2 separate regions of the Homo sapiens genome follow, and region 2 is linked to region 1. The links come from fine-mapping of genetic effects on gene expression. Tissue or cell type: monocytes after interferon gamma. Region 1 holds a variant in brackets; the other region holds the start of a gene. All regions are shown on one strand. Distances are between the middles of the regions.

Region 1 (8,106 bases):
TGGCATAAAACTAAAACTAAATGACACAATGAACAACAACAACAACAAGCCATTCTATTGATTAAAAGAGACTTAAGAGCAGTAACCATCAGCCCTGTCAAGATGGTGGCTCCTTGGAGCTCAGTGGCTGGGAGGTGGCTAGGGGCTCCTATTGGTACACAGTGAGTATGTGGTGGTGATGGCTTATGCCAAATTATCTGTTGCATGTTTGAAAGTTAATGTTGGGCCAGGCATTGTGGCTCCCAGCACTTTGGGAAGCCCAGACGGCCGATCGCTTGAGCTCAAGAGTTTGAAACTAGCTTGGGCAACATGGCAAAACCCCATCTCTACTAAAAATACAAAAAAATTGCCAGGTGTGGTGGTGCGTGCCGGTGGTCCCAGCTATTCTGGAGGCTGAAGTGGGAGGAACCTTTCAGCCCAGGAGGCAGAGGTTGCAGTGAGCAGAGATTGTGACACTGCACTTCAGCCAGTGTGACACAGAGAGACCCTGCCTCAAAAAAAAAAAAGAGAAGAAAAGAAAAGAAAGTTAATGTCATAGATAGCCACTGGAGAGGTTCAAGGGAAGATATATCAATTTTGACAACTGAAGACAACATTGTTTCTTAGCTGGTAAAAATATTAAACTTTTAAGGAAAACAGAAATATAATGTTTATTATGAATTTCCAGCCAAAGGGCAGACACACTGGCTTTCAATGCTCTCCTTGAATAGAAGCTGCCTCCTCTAGCGCTTCACACGTTCTGGGTTGAAAGCCACAATTACTCTACTGTAACAAAGCCTTGGTGTTGGTTTGCTTCATAGATTCCTTTTCCCTTGGGTTTGATCCTGCCTGGAAAAATGTCTGCAACAGCACTGATCGGATTATCCTGACCAGAGGAGAGCCTCTCCTTTACCGCCTGTGAGAAGTGGAATCATGGATATAGAGATGCTAAGAAGTGCCTAAATCTTCTGGCAGATAGATTGTGAACATCTCAGCTTTTCCTTGGAGATACGCGTTCTACTTTGGTTACCTATGTGTTTGGTTTCCTTGCACCTCTGCGTGAAGTGCACTTTCCTAAAGTTCAGTTACAAGAACATTTGGAACATCTCTCCAACCTGCGTTCCTTTTGTGATGCTCTCCTAAATAGTTATTTTAGGCTTAGCGTTGGAGATGGATGACAATCTTCACCAAAACCCTCAACTTCCTCCTTGGAAACTGCCAACATTCAAATTGACATCAGTGGAGCAAGAAAGTAATTCCTTATGTTAAATTAAATAATAAGTACTCATTAAATATATAGCTTATTTCCAAATAAAATATGTTTTTAATTTAAAAATTATAAAGACTTTTAAAATATGCTCTTTATTTTAAAAAATGTTTTTAATCTAACTTAATGGTTATTTCAAAATAGGAAACAAAATTAAAAAAACAATAAATGGAAAATATATATTAAAAGTTATAAATATGAAAAAATACATATTTTTGAAAATATATTTTTAATTTAAAAAGGTTAAAAATATTTTATATTAAAAAAACTCAGCCTGACATGGTGGCTCATGCTTGTAATCCCAGCACTTTGGGAGGCTGACAGGAGGCTCACTTGAGGCCAAAAGATCAAGACCAACCCAGGCAACATAGCAAGACCCTGCCTTCCTAAAAAATAAAAAATAAGTTACAGGGGCACACCTGTAGTCCTAGACACACAGGAGGCTTTATCACATTGGAGATCTTTATAACTTTTTGATATGGGCATTTAGAACTATAAGCTTTCCTTTTAACATTGCTTTAGCTGTGTCCCAGAAATTCTGCTTTGTTGTATCTTTGTTCTCATTAGTTTCAAAGAATTTCTTGATTTCTGCCATAATTTCATTGTTTACCCAAAAATCATTCAGGAGCAGGTTGTTTAATTTCCCTGCAATTGTATGGTTTTGGGCAAAAAAACTCTCATCAAATTTTAACCATGGCTATTCTAAGGCTTTGTTTAATCCACAGATACTATTTTCAATTCTTCCCTAAAAACATTTGCCACCAGCTATAATATAAAATTACTTTTCACTAAAAAGGCCTCTAGCAAATACTCTTAGACACAAATTTCTGATAACTTTAAAATCAATCGACTAAATGAAAATTATTAAAACTCTAATAAAAACTAATAGGTTCATCAAAACTACTAAACAAGATCAAACAAAACAGAAAGTTAACTAATTAAAAAAATAAAAACAACGTTTTATAACTGTTATTCAAGATACTGTTAGTTCTGGCTAAGCATAATCCCAGCACTTTGGGAGGCCAAGGTGAGAGAACTGCTTGAGCCTGGGAGTTGGAGACCTGCCTGGGCAACATAATGAGACCTTGTCTCTATTACTTTTTAAACAATTATAAAATAAAATACTGTTATTTCTTTAAGTAATGCTTTAAGTACTGTTTCCTTTTCCATTAAAAAATTTTCAACTGGACATGGTGGCTCACACCTGTAATCCCAACATTTTGGGAGGTCAAGGCAGGAGGGTCACTTGAAGCCAGGTGTTCAAGACCAGCCTAGGCAACAAAGTGAGACCCCCATCTCTACAAAAAATTTTTTTGTAGAGACAAAAAAAATTTTTTGTCAGGTGTGGTGGCGTATGCCTGTAGTCCCCGCTTGGGAGGCTGAGGCAGGAGGATTGCTTGAGTTTAGGAGTTCAGAGGCTGCAGTGGAGCTATGACTGCATCACTGCACTACAGCCTGGGCAGTAAAGTGAGACCCCATTTCTATAAAAGAAAAAATAAAAATAAGGAAAATTTTCTCTCATATACTATCTATAGTTTACAATAATAGCCTGAGCAGCATAGCGAGACCTCGTCTCTACTAAAAAAAAAAAAAAAACGAGCCGGGCATGGTGGTACATGCCCCGTGGTCTCAGCTACTCACGAGGCTGAGGTGGACAGATAGCTTGAGCCTGGGAGATTGAGGCTGCAGTGAGCTTGATCGTGCCACTGTACTCCAGCCTTGGTGACAGAGTGAGACCCTGTCTCAAAAATAATAATATTAATAATTTAATAATTATACTTTTATAAACAATGATAAAAAACATTTGCTTCTTCTCCCTACTTAATTTCTTAAAAAATTCAAAAACTATTTGTATCATTTTTATAACAACATTATTTATACAAATTCAGTTAAAATCTACTCTCTTTATAAACAAACAATTAAAAATATTAGTTATATTACTAAGATTTTGACTGAATTGTCATATTTTTAAATGCACATAAAATGCTTAACTTCAAGAGTTCTCAACCTTACAATAAATAAATAAAAATTGTTACTTTCTTACAGGCTCAAAAACCATAAGACTATAAAAAAAAATCTGAAATCTGCTTTGATTTGGTTTCCCAGCCTGAAAAAAGTTCTTAAATCTGAGATTTCTATATAATCAACTTTTTAAAAAAATTATGTTTCTAAAAAGCCTATAAAACACCTATTATTAGATTATAACCCCATCCATTATTTTCAAATTCCTTTTATCTACCTGTACACTATACTAAATCCTAAATTTTTCCAATTTCGTCCAAAATTTGGCTACAACTCCCCAATGAAAAACAAAAAATACTCTGTTTCTAAACTAAAACGAGATAACTTTTAAAAACCAAGTCTCATGCCTGATATATGGGCCACACAAAAGATTCACCAAACCATCCAATGTCATGACCAAAGACATTAAAACTGCAACCCCCAGAAAAAGTTAATGGTTTTTACTTGTGGAAGGAAGTCTTGGTTAAAAAAAAAAAAAAAAAGTTAATGTTTTCATGTTATAGACAACTTTTTCCAAGATATCAGAGCAAGAGTCTATATCATAATAAAACTTTTATCCCTCTTAATGCCTACCTTTTTCATTGAACAAAAAGATATAATTAAAATTTCACAATCAATAACTTCTGCTAGTAACATAAAAGCTAACCTAGGCCAGGTGTGGTGGCTCATGCCAGTAATCCTAGTGCTTCGGGAGGCCAAAGTAAGAGGATCACTTGAGGCCAGGAGTTTGAGACCAGCCTGTTCAACATAATGAAACCTTGTCTCTACAAAAGAGAAAAAAAACGAGTCAGGCTTCGTGGTGCAGGCCTGTAGTTCCAGCTACTCAGGAGGCTGAGGCAGGAAGATCCCTGGAGTCCAGGAGTTCAAGGCTACAGTGAGCTATGATGGCACCACTAGACCCCAGCCTAGATGACAGAGCAAGACCCTGTCTCTTGACCAAAAATAAAAGAAGAAGAAGAACTTAAAAAAAATCCTTTAATATCCATTAGTTAAAATTTTAAAAGGCTAGAGTGGTAGGTGCAGTGGCTGACACCTGTAATCCCAGCACTTTGGGAGGATGAGGTGGGAGGGTTGCTTGAACCCAATGGTTCGAGACCAGCCAGGGCAACATAGGAAGACTCCATTTCTACAAACAAGCAAACAAACAAACAAAAAAGGCAGCTGTGGTGGCACGGGCCTGTCGTCCCAGCTACTCGGAAGGCTGAGGTGGGAGGATGGCTTGAGCCTGGGAGATCAAGGCTGCAGTTAGCATGACCCAGCCTGAGTGACAGAGAAAGATCCTGCCTCAAAATAAAATAAAATTTAATTTAAATTTAAAATAAATAAATTTTAAAAGTCTATACTATTACTAATATTACATGCTATACCTAAATAAATTCCTCTAAAAAAGCTAAGATCCACTTATAGAAAATTAACAAAACGGGTCATATAATTACAACAAGTGTAACTAAATTCCCTATGGTCATTTAATTTATTCAATTGGTAGTCTTTAAGTCTCAGTTCATGGCCCAAAACCATTATACAAACTAAAACTGTCATATTGCTAATAATTTACTCTAATTTTCCCTTTTAAAACTTTATATCTATTGCTTGTTACATTTTCACAAAAATACAGCTCTTAACAAAATAATACTGCCCCAAAACTTTAAAATAAGAACAAAAGACTGAAAAACAGCCAGTAATCCCAGCACTTTGGGAGGCCGAGGCGGGCGGATCACGAGGTCAGGAGATTGAGACCATCCTGGCTAACACGGTGAAACCCTGTCTCTACTAAAAATACAAAAAAAAAAAAA[TA/A]ATAATTAGACGGGCGTGGTGGCGGTTGCCTGTAGTCTCAACTACTAGGGAGGCTGAGGCAGGAGAATGGCATGAACCTGGGAGGCGGACCTTGCAGTGAGCCAAGATCGCGCCACTGCACTCCAGCCTGGGCAACAGAGCGAGACTCCATCTCAAAAAAAAAAAAAAGAGAGACTGAAAAACAAATAAAAATAAACTTAATAATACACACTAGATAAACAGCCTAAGGGCCATTTTCTTCAAACTCCATTGTTACTCAAACATGACTAAAATCATTCTGACACTGACTCTCAGTTGCCAATTATTCCCCGAAACAAGAGATGAGACCAACAACCAAGACAGGTTAATCCTGACACCAAAGGACATCAAAGCCTAACTACAAAGTAATTGATCAGTAATACTTTCAAAAACAGATTTTGGCCGGGCACAGTGGCTCATGTCTGTAATCCCAGTACTTTGGGAGACCAAGGCAGGTGGATCACTTGAGCCCAGGAGTTCGAGACCAGTATGGGCAACATGGCAAGACTCTTGTCTTTTTGTCATTTTTTTTAAATTAAATTAATTCTTTAAAAAAATTTTAATAGAAAACAATATATAAAAGTTGGTAAAATCATAATAAAATCAGGAATATTTTTAAAATGATAACAAACTGGCTGGGTGCAGTGGCTCCAGCCTTAATTCCAGCACTTTGGGAGGCTGAGGTGGGCAGGTTGCTTGAGCCGAGGAGTTCAGGACCAGCTTGGGCAACATGGCAAGACCCTGTCTCTACAAAAAATTTTAAAAGTAGCCAGGTATGGTGGTGTGCACCTGTAGTTCCAGCCAGTTGGGAGGCTGAGGTGGGAGGATCGCTTGAGCCCAGAAAGTTGAGGCTGCAGTGAACTCGGTTCATACCACCGCACTCCAACCTGGGTGACAGAGCAAGACCCTGTCAAAAAAAAAAAAAAGAAAACAACTCATAAGACTTAAGCGATAAAGTGAGAGTTCTCATTCTTGCATGCCTAATAACAAAAACTATCACAAAACACTACAAAAACTACAACCTTACACAAAGACTATCACAATTTTGTACAAAAAAAAAAAATACTTCTACATGGACACTTGCCCAACAACTACAAATGGTGTCACTCTTGTTATTGATCTTTATAGCCAAAGATAATTATTTCAAAACAATTGTATAAATCCTCATTTTTTTCTTTAAAAATTTGTCTTCCTTTACCTCCATAAATATACACATGGTTTCACACAATACAGTGTCTTATAGTTATACTATAACATATTACTATTACAATACTCTAGTCCCATGTAAATATCTTTTTCTTTTAAAAAGCCTCTCTGGGCCAGGCGCGGTGGCTCACACCTGTAATCCCAGCACTTTGGGAGGCCGAGGCGGGCGGATCACGAGGTTAGGAGATCGAGACCATCGTGGCCAACACGGTGAAAGCCTGTCTCTACTAAAAAATAGAAAAAATTAGCCGGGCGTGGTGGCGGCCGCCTGTAGTCCCAGCTACTAGGGAGGCTGAGGCAGGAGAATGGCATGAACCCGGGAGGCGGAGCTTGCAGTGAGCCAAGATCGTGCCACTGTATTCCAGCCTGGGCGACAGAGCAAGACTCCGTCTCAAAAAACAAACAAACAAACAAACAAAAAGCCTCTCTGCTTGTTATTTAAACTACCACAAGAGTTATCACCATCAGCATGTTTGTGCCCAAACCTTTGCCTCAAGTCATATGATTATTGCAGTAATTTCTTACACTAAGTATGCGAGGTCAAAAATGTTTTTAAAAAGTATAAAGAAGACTAAAATAAAAGGAACTTTCTATTCTATGTATGTATTTTTTAACTAGAAAGTTTGCATTCTAATTTAGCAATACACATTAATGTCAAAGTGAACTTTAAATGAACTTGGAAAAAAGAAAATACATCGTGCTGTATATATTTTTTAAAAGAAGAAAGCAGCCGGGTGCAGTGGCTCACGCCTGTAATCCCAGCATTCTGGGAGGCCGAGGCGGGTGGATCATGAGGTCAGGAGATCGAGACCGTCCTGGCTAACATGGTGAAACCCCGTCTCTACTAAAAAATACAAAAAATTAGCCAGGCGTGGTGGTAGGCGCATGTAGTCCCAGCTACTTGGGATGCTGAGCCAGGAGAATGGTGTGAACCTGGGAGGCGGAGGTTGCAGTGAGCTGAGATCATGGCACTGCACTCCAGCCTGGGCACAAAGCGAGACTCCATCTCAAAAAAAAAAAAAAAAAAAAGAAGAAAGCCTGCTTTAATCTTGGCATTTGCCTTTGGTTTACATGTTGCTGACCAAAAGACACAATTCTGTTCTGAATGTGTGTTCAATTTATTCAAGTTAATTTACTCAATTTGTCAGTTTTTTTTAGGCCAATCTGAATGTTTAATCTTCATCTCTTTGGCTAAGGCCTTTTCTTCTGTTTAGAAATCTGATTTCTGGGATGGGTGCAGTGGCTCATGCCTGTAATCCCAGCACTTTGGGAGGCCGAGGTGGGCAGATCACTTGAGGTCAGTAGTTCGAGACCAGTATGGCCAACATGGTGAAACCCAGTCTCTACTAAAAATACAAAAATTAGCTGGACGCAGTGGCACATGCCTGTATTCCCAGCTACTTGGGAGGCTGAGACAGAAGAATAGCTTGAACCTGGGAGGCGGAGGTTGCAGTGAGCTGAGATGATGTCACTGCACTCCAGCCTGGGCGACAGAGCAAGACTCTGTCTAAAAAAAAAAAGAAAGAAAAAGTAAAGAAATCTGATTTCTGTTTTAGAAACTAGGAAAAATATTAATTATTTCAATAGAAAAGCATGTATTTAACTTGAGAGAGAGAGACAGAGAAAGAGAAAGAGAGAGAGAGAGAGAGACTTATCAACCAAATGAAATATGTAGTCTTGTTTCAGTCCTGATTTTTATAAACCACCTTTAAAAGACATTTAGGGACAATTAGGAAAATTGAACACAGACTGGTCGTTATACCAGGGATGTGAAAGGAAAATAAACCTTGGATCCCAAAATCACTGTCATACTGCGGACT
Region 2 (8,106 bases), 28 kb before region 1:
CAGTGTCTACCAAATCAATTAATGAACATACAAATAAATGACCTGGCCTCCTCCTGCAGCCACTGTCCCTCATGAACCCTAAACTGCAGCCAAATGACTAGCAGTTTCTAGAACATAGCAGACTTCCCCCTTGACCTCTGCTCTTGCCTGAAATGCCTTCCACTTCCACATTCCTTCTACCTAGGTAACTTTCTCAACCTTTCGAGCTCTCAGGCATCATCTCCTCTGGGAAGTCTCTCTGGTTTCCCAGGTTTGGTTACATATTTCTCCTATGCATTTTAATTCAATTTAACTAAAAAACAAACAAACCAACAACTCAGGGCCATGTGCGGTGGCTCACGCCTGTAATCCCAATACTTTGGGAGGCTGAGGTGGGCAGATCACTTGAGCCTAAGAGTTTGAGACCAGCCTGGGAAACATGGTGAAACCCAGTCTCTTAAAAAAACACAAAAATTAGCCAGGCATGTTGGTGCATGCCGGTGGTCCCAGCTACTCAGGAGGGTGAGGTGGGAGGATCGCTTGAGCCCTAGAGGTGGAGGATGCAATGAGCTGAGATCACACCACTGCACTCCAGCCTGGCAGACAGAAAGAGACCCTGTCTCAAAGAAGGAAAAAAAAAAAATCCTCAGGAACTGTGCAGCCAGTCCTCTCAAGTAGCTCATAGTCAAGTGAGGAAGACATTTTTTCATTCATTCAACAAATATTTACCATGGGGCTGCAATACCTATGCTGGAGACACAGTGCTGCATATGACAGGCAGGGATCCTAGCCTCTCAAAGCTCATACTGCAGCTGAAAAAACAATTTTGGTACCGTGTGGGAAGTTTGATACATAGGGTATAACAAGTGACACTCCAGCCCAGGGACAAAGATTGGTTAGAGAAGAGGTAAATGAGGCTTTTAGGATCTAAGTCTAGGCTATTCCAGGCCGCAGCAGCTGTGAGGCCACACTGTACAATGACTTAAGTAATGGACTAGGAAACCTAGCCCAATCTAGCTCTGCCTCTCACTGAATGGGTGAGTCTGGGAAGGCCGTGCTGTGCTGAGCTACACAGGTAACTCAGCTTGGACTAGGGGGCTGGCATAGTGATGAAGAATATAGTCAGAGATGTGATTTATTATGGAAAAAGAATCAACAGGACTCAATAAATAGATGTATCACTGGCATCCAGCTCAAATGCCACGTTCTCAGACCCTCCCTGACCAACCTAAGGTAGGACTCCCCTACACCTACAAGTTCACTCTTTATCTCATTTCATATCCATTCAAATCCTGGTTTCGTGTTACTGACGGCTCTTATTTGAAAGACTCCAATTTATTTCCTTACATGTTTGTTGTTTGTTTTCCCCTACCTTCTTTGTTCTGTTGTTGATTTAAATACTGTGAGGACTAAGGGAGAAGACTAAGTCAAGGACGATCCCCCAAGTTTCTGGTTTGGGCAACTGGGTGGAAGATAGTGCCATTCACTGAGATGGGGAACAGATTTGGGACTGACAGAGGGAAGATGATGAGCTCTGTTCAGGGTACCTACCTGATGTAAGGTACCTGTGGGGCATTGAGAAAGAGATATTAGTAAATGACTGGATGCGAAGGAAGCACTGCTCTGGATTGGTGACTTGTAGAGAGGGTAACTGAAGCCACAGGGTTCATACTAAGAAAGTAGAGAACAAGAAGACTAGAGCACCTAGGATACAGCTCTGAGGAACAGCAACATTTGAAAGACCAAGAAAAGCCATGAAAAACCAGAGCAGGTCCGGGAAAGAACAGGATCCCTTGGGCAGAAAAGACCCACAGAGTCCTACTCTGCATGCATTTGCCACGAGGATTGAGTGGGTAATCACAGTTGGGCATAAGCGTGCCCCCAGAACCAACCCTAGGAGACTGGAGAGCTCGCACAAATGGCTCAAAGTGGGAGGGCAATCTTGGCCTGTGTCCGAATGAAGGTAGCTTACCTTATTGAACCTGGCAAAGGGGTAGTCCTTGCCCTCCTCCGCTGCACGTCGCCAGTGGAAGAACATTGCTCCGTCCTTGCGGGCCGGGTTGGTGAATGGCATCCACTTCCAAGGCCGCACCTTCTTGGAGCCCAACTTGGCCTTCACTGTACGGTATCCCTGGCCAGTGTCACTGGGTAGCAGTGGGGGTGCATCCCTGGCAGGGAGGTTTAGGGAGATGCGAGGTTAGAATCAGAAGGTGTGTTAAAGAGCTTTTTGTCCCAGGGAGCTGATCTACCCTACCCTATAGCAAGAAAGTCATGTCCTGGAGCAAAAGACTTCAGGTCCTCCTGCATCCTGCTAAGCAAGCAGGAGCCCTTGCTGGGGAGGAGAAAATTGTTAGAGAAAACTAGGAGTTAGGGGCATGGCAGGTGAATCAGGGGCCAAAACCTGGGGGACTTGGGACTCCAATACTTGCTTCTTGTCAGAGTAGAGCAAGGCATAGACTTCCCGGTGCATGCCCTCGGGCCTCTTGAAAGTCAGTGTCTCAGAGGACTTCTTGGATTTTTTCTGAGGAAGGAAACCACAGAAAGGAACCACAACCTAGACCCTTTCCTGAAAATTCTTTAGTCCAGCTCAATCCCTGAACAAAGCAGCACCTACAGGGTCAATGACAGGCAAACTGACACACTGTAAAGGCACAGAAACCCACTCCCAGGAACACCATCCTACGCCCAAATCAGAGCAGTCCCCTCCCCATCCCACCAACTCTCAGACTGTTACAATGTCTTGATCTCTCCCCAACAATATCTTGCAAAAATCACACTTGCCTGGTCCTCTCAGCTCTTAGAGGTGTCATACCCTCTTGGTCCCACCATCTCCCACGATGTCCCATCTCCTCCCTCCCATCAAGGATGACACATATTCCCTGTCCTGTTATGTCACCCCTTTTATCGCCCAACTCACTGTAAGTGTAGCACCCATCCCTTGCCCGTTGTCACTCCTCCCCATCTTCACTCCCCTACCCTCCCCTAGTCAACGCTTTCAGGTGCCCCTGCTACCTTGTCCGGGTTGATAATGTCCTTCTTGCTGATGGTCCCAGAGGCTGCATCCCCTTCTGGACCCCCGAGTTCTAGAATGTCCCGTACATCCGCGCCCGTAGCCATCGCGCCTGAGAGATGGGGGAGCCACCGGAGGTCAAGGGTCAGTGCCTGAAGAAGGACCAGGCTCAGGTCAGGGGGCGGGGCCAATCCAGACCTAAGCGGAGGCGAGTTGAAGGGGCGGGCCAAGAGGAGAAGGGTGGTCCAGGTCAGGTCGGGGATCTGCCTGTGCCCCACCGCTTGGATGTTCCTAACGGCCCCTTCAGCCACCTGGGCCCTCGCACTTCCGCACCTGGGTCCGGCAGCTGCAGCCCCCACTACCACTCCCCCGTCCCCGCAAAGCCGCGGCAGAAACTTCCGGCGGTGCTCATTCGGAACGCGGCCGACAGAAACACTTCCGGTCGGTGTTGTAGGAAACGAAGCCGACTGGCAACCGAGGGTGAAAGCTACTGGCCGTGCTGAGCTTGCCACCCTTTGGTTCTCCCGCGAGCCTGTTTTCATTGGTGCACTGCCTGCTTTCTGGCATTTTCCCTCTACGATGCTCCGTTGCGTCTCAGGCAGTGAAGAGATACCAGAACTTTGTGACTTTGGGAAGTCACTTAATTTCTCTGGACCTTTTTCTTTATTTGCCGAATGGAAATTGTAATGGCACCTGTGTAAATGAAATACCAAGAATCCTTGTAAAACATTAGCACGGTGCGTGGGACATTTACTATTTTTTTATTAAATGAGTTAATGATTTGAATTGCCCCCTCTTCATTAAGTGCTAATATGTACTAGGCACTGTGCTAAGCTTGGAGGTGAAGAGATAAACTTCAAATTGTGATAAGCTTGAAGATGAAGAAATAAAGGCAGAGCTTCCTAGGGCGGCTGCCAAAATGGAGTAAGGTGTGGGCCCTCATTTGCACCTCCTCTGATGGAGATAGCTGTGGGTTGTGGCCTCGTGGGGATTTCCTGGAGGCCAGCTTCGTGGCACTTCACTAGTACAGGAGCTAGCTGCACTCTTTGGGCTACGAAGAAGCCCAAAACACAGCCCCAAGCAGGAACCAGCTTAGAAGTATCCCTCAAGGGAATAAACCTGGGGATCTTCCTGGAAAGAGAGAGACAGGAGGTCCTGAGGAAGGGCACAAGGGACAAGGAAAGCAGCTCCCAGCTTCAGCAGTCTGCAAACCAGCCTGTCAATTTGAAGGACACATAGCCTGTGGGATAGGGTGGGGCTTGTTAAGGCATTAAGAAGGCCAGACCCCAAGTCGAGACCTGCCAAAGATACCAGCAGGGACTAGAGGAGCAGACAGTTTGCGCAAGTTAGCTATAAGTGGTGTAGCCTGTTCTGGCCTGGAGAAGACAAGGGGATACAACAGCTGTAGCCACAAGCCTGACTAGTCCCCAAAACTTTGGAGAACTAGGCCTGGAGGTACAAACCTGTTCCTGGGTCTGATTCCTGGATGGATCCACTGAGCTCCAAACAGTTGCCGGAGGAAGTCACAGTCTTACAGCAGAAATTGTCCACAGGGTAAGGAAATGGTCCTTGGAGCCAGAAAGGGAGAGAGCAATTGGCTGCCTGAAACACTTGACCCTAGTTGTAGTTAATTAATTGTGTAATTACTTGTTTAATATATATCTCTAATAGACTCATTTCTGTGAAGACAGGGATCACAGTACATAAAGGAATGTATGTGCCAGGCACTATTCTAGACTCTGGGCATGCAGTGGGTGAACGAGATACAAATAGCTACTGGTGGAGCTTATATTTAGTGGAGAAGGAGAAACACTAAGGAAATAGACAATAAAATTGATAATGTAAGTTTTGATGGTAACAAGAGCTAGGAAGGAAATGAAATAGAGCGATGGGATGGAGAACTGCTTTCCATAATCTGGTCAGGGAAAGTTAGTGGTCTCTCTTTTTTTTATAAATGTGTATATACATAGAAAAAATTCTGGAAAGGACTAAACTGAAATGATTCCATCACTTGTTTTTATCTGGCAATTTATATTTTCTATACTTTCTATAATGAATGTGTACCTCTTCTATAATAAAAGGAAGGAATGAAGGGAAGAAGGAAAGGAAGAAGGAAAGACAGGCAGACTGTGCGCTGTGGAAGGTGGACCAGGCCAGAGTTTAGGAGACTAGAGGGCAGTTGTGACTATCTAGGTTAGAGGTGTTGGGAAACTGAACTAAGGTTGTAGCAGTGGCAATGGATTCCAGATATTTAGAGAAAGATGACCATGTTATCTGCAAATAATGACAAGTTTATCCCCTCCTTTCAATTTATACCCCTTATTTCTTTTTCTTTTAGCATTTTCCAGTACCTCCAGTAATTGGTTAAACAGCAGGTGTGGTCGTGGGCATCCTTGTCTTTTTCCAGATCTTAAGGGGGGCGCATTTAAATTTTTTCTATTAAACATAACATTTGCTCCAGGTTGTTTGTATATACTCTTTCCCAAATTAAGGAACATTCTTCTTAGTTTTCTAAGAGTTATTTATTCCTTAAGGTGATCATCTTTAGCAAAAAAAAAAAAATGCTTTTCATCAATTGATATCAATTGATATATTTATAAGAATTATCTCCTTTAGTCTACTACTGAAGTGTATTAACAGATTTTGTGATGTTACATTTATGGAATGAAATCCATCTGATCATAATACATATGTAAAGAAGGTATACTTTTGGGCTTAGCTAGCTAATAGTTTATTTAGGATTTTTAAAAAATCAATTTATAACTGAAATGGGCCTATAATTTTCTTTTCTTTTAACTATCCTGATGTGATTTTGGAATCAGAATTATGCTTGTCTTCTAAAATGAGTCAGGAACCTTCATTCTTTTTCTACCCTTTGAACAATGCGCAACACACACACACATACATTTTAGTTTAGTAGAAATGACCTAAAAACCCTCAGGCCTTTTTTTGTTTGGGGGCAAAGGGAGTCTTTAAGGATTATTTTAAACACTTATTAGTCTATCTCTTCTTGATTTCAATATTAGTAGTTTATATTTTCCTCACAAGAATAGCTAAAAGTGAAAAGACTGACAATACCAAGTGTTGGTGAGGATGTGAAGCAACAGAACTCTCATACATTACTGGTGGAAATAAAATTATTACAACCACATAGAAACATTGACACTATCTACTAAAGTCAAACATCCATATCCCTGATGTCACAGCAGTTCTACTCCTAGGTATATTCCTAAGAGAAATAAGTGCTTATGTTCACAGAAAGACATATACAGAAATGATCATAACACTGTTATTCATCATAGTCCCAAACTGGAAACAATTCAAAAGTCTCTCAAAAGTACAAATAAATTATAGTATAGTCATACAATGGAATACCACAAGCAATGAGAAAGAAAAAAATACTGCTACATGCAAGGATATGAATGCATCTCACTGACAAAATGTTGTATGAAAGAAGAAAGGCACAAATGAATACATAATGTATAATTCCATTCATATGAAGTTCAAAACTAGACAAAACTGATCTATCATGATAGAGATCAAAACAGTGGGAGGGGCACCAAGGGGGAGAAGGCATGAGCCTCTTGGAGTGTTGGGAATGTTCTACATCTTGATCTGGGTGATGGTATATGGTTACATACATTCCTATGTAAACATCATTGAGCTGGCACCTTTAAGAATGTGCCTTTTATTGTATGAAAGTTATACCTCAATAAAAAGGAAGCAAGTATTAAGCATATAGGAAATAATTGATAAATTTGACTATATAAAGGTAAGTTACAACCCTAGGGTTAACAGAAGTTAAATCTTAAAATTTAGTGTTTTGTTGACCAAACAACAAGGAGGTCTCTGTGAATAAATTAATACCTTCCATTACACCTATGTGAATAAAACTTGACAAATAAAACAAAAATCAGGCTAGGTGTGGTGGCTCATGCCTGTAATCCCAATACTTTGGGAGGCCAAGGTGGGTGAATCGCTTGAGCCCAGGAGTTCAAGACCAGTCTAGGCAACATGGCGAAATCTCATTTCTACAAAAAATACAAAAATTAGCTGAGTGTGGTGGCGCACACCTGTTGTCCCAGCTACCTGGGATGCTGAGGTGGGAGGATCACCTCAGCCCAGAAGGTTGAGGCTGCAGTGAGCCGTTATGGTGCCATTGAACTCCAGCCTGGGTGACAGAGCAAGACACCGTCTCAAAACAATGACAGCAACAAAACATCTGATCAAATCAGAAATCACTAAACAAACTTAGATGGGCAAATCTGTGCTTATGAATGGTAATAGACCCCAAAGAGGGACTGGAGCAAGACTGACATCTTTCTCTGCCTGTATTTTGAGTAGACTTGCAAATCACATCCCTCAATCAGGGAAGAAGTGAAAAAAAAAAAAACAAGCACTTTGTTCCTGGAGATAAACAAAACAATACAAAAACAGGGCCACACTGAATAGTTCTAAACCCAAAATAAATGAAAGCTTAATTCTTTCCAGTACCTTACTACTGATGCTGTAGCAAAGACAACTTTATTCCCGATTTTTGCAATGCTGATCTCCAACAGAACTCTCATAATTTTGAGAGAGAATTGCTGTTTTTCCGCCATGAACAAATTGGTAAGTTTGCTTATCTTTTTTATGTTGTATTTATTATTTGGTTAACCAGTCCTTCTAAAGTCTGGACTTTCTTACAGACTTTTTTTTGCAAGTCAATTATTTTGCTTTCCAAACTAAACTAAGTAAATAAAAATTAAAGTAAGAGATAAAGTGCTGCACCTTGCTCCACCCACCTTGAAGACAGAATTACAAAAGTTGGTGGTCCTCTTTGGATTTGGAGGCATATGAACAATATTTGATCATGCTCTGACTCATTTACAAGGTAACCTATCAGTTTTGAGAGGGGCCTGGCTCAAGAAGGGGTTCTGTGTGACATCCAGGTCACCGTGCAAGATATGCTGCCATTTGGGACTGATTATCCAACAGACCCAATGATATTGGAAGTATCTGGTGACAAAGATCTCATGTATAGTCTCTGGCAATCCTAATAGCAGAATCACAGCACAGCCACCCAGAGTTCTGAAGGCTATAATCTCACCTATAAACAACTACCACTGCTTAAAAAG

Direction of the effects. Positions count from the first base shown, and alleles are read on the strand shown. Sizes are in standard deviations (SD) of each study's normalised expression.
In carriers of allele TA in region 1, the expression in monocytes after interferon gamma of the gene that starts at base 3,379 in region 2 tends to be lower than with A alone (moderate effect, 0.53 SD a copy in Fairfax 2014).

Evidence for each region. PIP is the estimated chance that this variant, and not a neighbour inherited with it, causes the effect.
Region 2: DMAP1 starts here. The variant in region 1 is fine-mapped to the expression of DMAP1 in monocytes after interferon gamma (Fairfax 2014, PIP 0.93).

The regions. Positions count from the first base shown.
Region 1 is chr1:44,181,074-44,189,179 of GRCh38, reverse strand. It overlaps the pseudogene LOC100130714. Among named protein-coding and RNA genes, the nearest start is that of DMAP1, 28 kb to the left of the region's middle. The variant TA/A (reference allele first, on the strand shown) is at 5,062.
Region 2 is chr1:44,208,744-44,216,849 of GRCh38, reverse strand. DMAP1 (DNA methyltransferase 1 associated protein 1) reads right to left here and starts at 3,379. Exons shown (of 10, transcript NM_019100.5): 1 at 2,992-3,379; 2 at 2,409-2,500; 3 at 1,952-2,147. The coding sequence starts at 3,096. RefSeq lists enhancers at 1,534-2,033, 2,034-2,535, 3,301-3,540, 3,279-3,573 and a silencer at 3,971-4,070.